2 separate regions of the Homo sapiens genome follow, and region 1 is reported to be linked to region 2. Evidence: microRNA targets listed by miRTarBase, many of them from high-throughput screens and not tested one by one. Region 2 holds a microRNA gene; the other region holds the end of a gene's coding sequence. Distances are from middle to middle.
What was found. The annotated mature microRNA hsa-miR-519d-3p reads CAAAGUGCCUCCCUUUAGAGUG and lies in region 2 at 1,580-1,601, opposite strand. An mRNA with a match to its seed (bases 2 to 7 or 8) in the 3' UTR can be bound and repressed. Matches are read on the target gene's strand: a 7mer-m8 pairs with bases 2 to 8, a 7mer-A1 pairs with bases 2 to 7 and ends in A, and an 8mer does both.

Region 1 (3,166 bases), 35 Mb from region 2:
CTCCTCCAAGAAGCCTTCCTTGACGTCCCAGCAGCATTTTCTGGGAAAGACAAACTTGGAGGCCAGGGCTCCTCTGTCCCAACAAGAACAAAAAGGGTTGATGAGGACTTCAGATACTCCCAACATCGTGGCCTTTTCCACAACTCTGCCTTTGGCCTCCGGGAGGCAGTGAAGTTCGGGGATTCCCAGGCTGCATTTAGTGGTTAGGGTAGAGTAGGTTAGAGTAGGTTAGGGTAGCCGTTAGGGTAGAGTAGGTTAGAGTAGGAAGAAAGACATTGTCATAGGAAGTCTCTCTGGCCGGGCGCGGTGGCTTACGCCTGTAATCCCAGCACTTTGGGAGGCTGAGGTGGGCGGATCACTTGAGCCCAGGAGTTCGAGACCAATCTGGGCAACATGGCGAAACCTCATCTCTACCAAAAAACAAACAAACAAACAAACAAACAAAATAGCCTGCCGTGGTGGCGCGCGCCTACTAGTTCCAACTATTCGGGAAGCTGGGTAGGAGGATTGCTGGAGCCTGGGAGGCAGAGGTCGCAGAGAGCCGCGATCCCACCATTGTACTCCAGCCTGGGTGACAGTGAGACCCCACTTCAAAAAAAAAAAAAAAAAAAGGCCGGGCGCGGTGGCTCAAGCCTGTAATCCCAGCACTTTGGAAGCCCCGGCGGCTGGATCACGAGGTCAGGAGATCAAGACCATTCTGGCTAACACGGTGAAACCCCGTCTCTACTAAATATACGAAAAATTAGCCGGGCGTGGTGGCGGGCGCCTGTATTCCCAGCTACTTGGGAGGCTGAGGCAGGAGAACGGCGTGAACCCAGGGGGCGGAGCTTGCAGTGAGCGGAGATCGTGCCACTGCACTCCAGCCTGGGCGACAGTGAGACTCCGCCTCAAAAAAAAAAAAAAAAAAAGGAAGTCTTTCGGATTCCAAAATCAGTCAAAATCAGTGCTCTACACCTTCGGGCGCCGAGGGACAGCGCCCCGTGCGCGCAGCCAGCCTTTTCCCTACAGCTTCAAGGGAACCAAGGTAAATTCAATCATCGAACCCGGGCCCTTTAAGAAGCGAGCATGAAGGGGCGGGGTCGAACCAAACCCCACCTCTGGAGCGTCCGCGGTCGGCGCCTGAATTACAACACGCATGCGCCAAGCCCACGCGGTTCCGGGTCCCAAGATTTGGCTCCAAGAGCTATTCGCAGAGAAACAGCCTCGCACAAAAAGCCACCGCCCCCGAAACCCGCGGGAAATCTGTTTCCTGTGAAAGGCCTGGCCTCCGGGCATTGGCGGTTTCCCTGATCCTCTCTCCCAAATTTTCCGGCAGGGGATTGATCGAGGCGACATTTAGGACTGGGGTGGGCGAGGGAGTGGCGGTTCTCGTCCCAAGTTACAGGTGAGGACGTTCAGGCCAAGGCGTAGCCAAGATCGCGCCGCCCTGTAGCTTGAGGAGGCGCCGGGATTCGAACCAAGGCTGTGCCCAATCCTAAGCCCTGCGAGGTCTTGTGGAACCGACATGACCCACTCTTTGGTTTGTCCAGAGACAGTGAGCAGGTAAGAGTCTGTGGGGACAGGCAGTGGCGAGGCCCTAAGCCTGGGGTCGAGCCCTCAGTGGACAGATCTGGGGGTCAGGCCCTCCGCGGAGCTGAGAGCTGGTCTCAGCCCCTCTCTTCGCCTTGATCCTGGTGCCTCCAGGGTGAGTTCAGTGCTGAATCGCAACACTCGGCAGTTTGGAAAAAAACATCTTTTCGACCAGGATGAGGAGACATGTTGGAACTCAGACCAGGTGAGGCGCCTCCCTCGACCCTCCATCTCTAGGGTGATTCAGATTCAGATCTCATGCCTTGAGAACGTCAGGGGGCCCTCATGGGTGGCCAGGAAAGGAACATGTGCCGAATTTCCTTCTTCCCCTCCATTCCAAGAACTATGTGAATGAGACAGGCATAGCAGGGCTCTGTGCCTGCAGTGAGCTTGCGCCTCAGTTTCCCTGTCTGCTTCCAGGGCCCCTCCCAGTGGGTGACGCTGGAGTTTCCCCAGCTCATCCGTGTCTCCCAGCTGCAGATCCAGTTTCAGGGTGGCTTCTCCAGTCGCCGGGGCTGCCTGGAAGGTACTAGAAGGCCCTGGGTGGCAGGGGTTCCAGGGGTCACCCCAGACACTCATTGCCTTTCTCTGCTGAAGGTTCACAGGGCACTCAGGCTCTCCACAAGATTGTAGATTTCTACCCTGAGGACAACAACTCGCTTCAGATATCCTGCCCCTGCTTCTGGGGTGGGTGGTCTGTGCCTCTGGAAGCTTTGGACTCACCCAAACCCGAATGGGAACCCTGATGTGTGATCTTGAACACGTGACCTCTAGGACTCCACTTTTTCTGTAAAATGGTGCTGATGACCACCTGTTCTGTGTGAGAGGCTTAGAGGGACCTGCAGCTTCCCCAGGTTGCCCACATCGGTGGAGTGTGAGCTGGGTCTGGAAGGGGTGGGGGCCTGCGGGTGGGAAACCAGAAATCACCAGTTTCCCTTGACTGCCCACGCTCACACTTTCCCCATACCAGCTGCTGAAGTGGACCGGCTGAAGGTGACGTTTGAGGATGCCACTGACTTTTTTGGCCGTGTGGTCATCTACCACCTGCGGGTGCTTGGGGAGAAGGTGTGAGACCTCTAGGGGCTGTCTCCTCCAGGAAGCCCTCCGGGAAGCACAGCAAAGTCCCTCATTCTGCACAGAAGGTTTATTGGTTCCTCTTGGGAAGGGTCCCCTCCCACCACCTGTCCAGAAGCTGCCTTTGAAGTCAGTTCTGGGTTTCCCCAGCTCTGGCTGACCATTTTGTTCCCTGAGTGTCTGAGTCCCCGGCAGGCGGCCTTCACTCAGGGTCAGCGGGCACCAGGTTGCTCTGGAAGAGCTTGAGGATGTGGTTCTCGATCACCTGTTGCACTGAGATGGGGCAGGGAAAAGGTGGGCTGTGAGCTTGAATCGGGAGTGGGGTGGAGGCACAGGCCAACCTGCGCTCTCCCCTTAGGGGACAAACAGGGACCCTTGCAGAGACCTGCATTACAGAGCAAAGCTGGGAGAACCGAGGACTCACCCCAGGAACCTCAACTTCCCCTAAGTTTGTAAAAATGCACTTTTGTAGCTTTTCAGAATTAATATAAAAATATTTCCTACCAAGCAAAATGTGTGAATT
Region 2 (3,396 bases):
GCTAATTTTTGTATTTTTAGTAGAGACGAGGCTTTGCCATGTTGGCCCTGTTGGTCTTGAACTCCTGACCTCAGGTGATCCTCCCGTCTCGGCCTCCCAAAGTGCTGGGATTACAGGCATGCGCCACCGCGCCCGGCCTATTTTTTACTTTCTTGAGACTGAGTCTCACTCTGTTGCCCAGGGTGGAGTGCAGCAGAAGATTTCAGCTCACTGAAAGCTCAGCCTCCTGGCTTCATGTTGGCCAGGCTGGTCTCGAACAACTGATCTCAGGTGATCCTCCTGTCTCAGCCTCACAAAGTGCAGGAATTACAGACAAGAGCCACCATATGCACACTAGTCCCATATTTAAAATTAGGAAAAAAAAAAACAAAACAAAGATGCCCACACCTGAACAGCAAATCGTTTGTTGTTCAAGTACATCTCAAATACATTGTTTATCTAAAATACAAGTTTAACTGGGGTCAGGTATGAACCAAAGAACAGTCCTTACTTTCTTCTTGTCTGTGCATGGGGGGTTAATATTCACATGTGGTCCCATCTACCAAGGACTGGGGAGGGGCAGAGGCAGGAGGATCTAAGCCCACTTCAGCCAGGGCAGCATAGTGAGACCGCCGTCTCATGCATTTATCTCCTGGTCATGCACCCAGATTTCAGCTTCATTTCCCCAATAAACACTGAAGCCCCATGCACTCCACCTCCGTGCTCTTGCTCATCCCATCTGCAGGGACACTGAGGTCCCCTCAACTCCACCTGACCCCACGTGAGGTTCTATACCAGTGCCAGAAAAATTTCCATAAAGTAAAAGGTGCTGATGGCTGTGCCCGGTGGCTCACGCCTGTATTCTCAGCACTTTGGGAGGCCGAGGCCAGCGGCTCACTTGAGGTCAGGGGTTTGAGACTAGCCTGGCCAACATGGTGAAACCCCACCTTTACTAAAAAAAAAAAAAAAAAAAAAAAATCAAAATCAAAAAGTAGCTGGTTGTAGTGGTGGGTGCCTGTAATTCCACCTACTCAGGAGACTGAGGCAGGAGAATGGCTTGAACCTGAGAGGCAGAGGTTGGAGTCAGCCGGGATCATGCCACTGCCCTCCAGGCTGGGTGACAGCAACACTCCATCTCAAAAATGAATGAATGAATAAAAAAGAAAAATACAAATATTAGCCGAGTGTGATGTCAGGCATCTGTAATCCCAGCTACCCAGGAAGCTGAGGCAGGAGAATCACTCGAACCCGGGAGGTGGAGGTTGCATTGAGCCAAGATCGCGCCACTGCACTCCAGTCTGGGTCACAGAGCAAGACTGTATCCCATAAAAGGACCATCTGAGCCCAACAGGCCTATCTTAAAAAGTGCTTCTCTAGTCTCTCCTGGGCAACAGAGACCTTGTCTTAGAAAAAAAAAAAAACACAAAACAAAACACACACACCAAAACAAAAAACAAAAACCTAACAAACAAAAAAACCAACCAAACAAACAAACAAAAAAACAGACTCCCAACATCATCCAAGTCTGATTACAAGCATGGTCTGCAAATGTATTACCAAGATCAGCATCATCTTCAACGTGGCTTTTCCCAAACGGTAACACTCTAAAGGGAGGCACTTTGTTTAAGAGAAAACAAACAGAAAGCGCTTCCCTTTGGAGGGTCACAGCATGGGATCTTCTTGCTCCAGCACTCTGGGTTTTTTGTTGAAATCTTCCTTGACCAGGTTAAAATGGCCACAACAATAAAGATGCATTTATTGGCCCTGTTTGCCTGTTTTCTAGAATCCAGAACATAAACCCCTAAAAGGACCATCTCCAGTTCCTTTCTTCAAAGGCTCTGCAGGTTAGCCTTGTTCATCAAGGGGCAACCCTCCTGAGTTTTGCCTCTAAAGAGAAAAAGCAATGCCTACTACACATACCTTATATTTAACCAAGAGAACTGGGCTGGATTTCTAGAGAACAGCAATGGACTTTGAGCTGAGTGTTCACTTGAGTTCCAGCACAGGGATACATAGTTCCGATGGGAGCATCCAAAATGGAGTCTAAGATGTTGAAGAATATACATTGTCACACACACAAACATCCTCCAGGATAGACCACAGGCTAGTGGATCACCTGAAAGCGGGAGTTCAAGACTAGCCTGGCCAACATGGTGAAACCCGTCTCTACTAAAAACATAAAAATTAGCTGGGTGGGGCAGTAGGTGCCTGTAATCCCAACTACCTGGGAGGCTGAGGCAGAAGCATCACTCGAACCCAGGAGGCGGAGGTTGCAGTGAGCCTAGATCATGCCAGTGCTCTCCAGGATGGGCAGCAAGAGTGCAGGACACGATGGTGGGTGCCTGATGCCTGAATTCCCAACAATTCGGCAGGCTGAGGTGGGAGAATCACTGGAACCCGAGAGGTGGAGTTTCCGGTGAGCAGAGATCCTGCTACTGCACTCCCAACGAAACAAGAGTGTGTCTCAAAAAATCAAAAAATAAAAAGAGGACCACTTAAGCCCAAGAAATCTTGGTGGAAGGTGCTATCCACCCACGCCTGGGCAATAGAAAGCCTGTCTTGGAAAAATTTCAAATCACAAACAGAACCCCGACATCATGCAAGTCTGATGATAAGCACGCTCTGCAAATGTATTACCAAGATCAGCAGCATCTTCAACGTTGCTTGTCTCAAACAGTAACACTCTAAAGGGATGCACGATCTTTTCTTTTATACAACAGACAGTGCTTCCATCTAGAGGGTCACTGCCTGAGATCTTCTTTTTTTTGACACGGAGTCTCACTCTGCCGCCCAGGCTGGATGCGGTGGTGGGATCTCGGCTCATGGCAACTTCTGCCTCCTGGGTTCAAGCGATTCTTCTGCGTCAGCCTCCTGAGTAGCTGGGATTAGAGGCACCCACCACCATGCATATTGCATATATGACTGCATATATGACCTGGTCATGCACCCAAGATGTTGGTTTCATTTCCCCAGTGAAAACTCAAACCCCATGCACTCCACCTCCGTGCTCTTGCTGAGCACATCCCATCTGCAAGGGACACTGAGGTCCCCCTTTGACTCTACCTGACCCCACATGAGGCTTTATAAATCAGTGCCAGAATAATTTCCATGGACTAAAAGGTGTTAATGGCCATGTGTGGTGGCTCACGCCTGTAATCTTAGCACTTTGGGAGGCTGAGGTGGGCAGATCACCTGAGGTCAGGAGTTCGCAACCAGCCTGGCCAACATGGTGAAACCCCGCCTCTGCTGAAAATATAAAAATTAGGCCAGGCGTGGTGGCTCATGCCTGTAATCCCAGCACTTTGGGAGGCAGAGGCCGGTGGCTAACTTGAGGTCAGGGGTTTGAGACCAGCCTGGCAAACATGGTGAAATCCCATCTCTACTAAAAAAAAAACAAAAAACAAAAAACAAAAAGTA

Region 1: the mRNA of RFXANK is a reported target of hsa-miR-519d-3p. The part of its 3' UTR that is shown has no 7-base or 8-base seed match.

The regions. Positions count from the first base shown.
Region 1 is chr19:19,201,399-19,204,564 of GRCh38, reverse strand. RFXANK (regulatory factor X associated ankyrin containing protein) reads right to left here. Exons shown (of 10, transcript NM_003721.4): 10 at 2,699-2,916. The coding sequence ends at 2,846. It overlaps NR2C2AP (nuclear receptor 2C2 associated protein), which reads left to right and starts at 1,151. Exons shown (of 5, transcript NM_176880.6): 1 at 1,151-1,542; 2 at 1,684-1,774; 3 at 1,990-2,095; 4 at 2,167-2,234; 5 at 2,524-3,156. The coding sequence starts at 1,505. The coding sequence ends at 2,640. RefSeq lists an enhancer at 951-1,245 and a silencer at 1,909-2,175.
Region 2 is chr19:53,711,605-53,715,000 of GRCh38, reverse strand. MIR519D (microRNA 519d) reads right to left here and starts at 1,654; the gene lies at 1,567-1,654. MIR517A (microRNA 517a) reads right to left here and starts at 2,733; the gene lies at 2,647-2,733.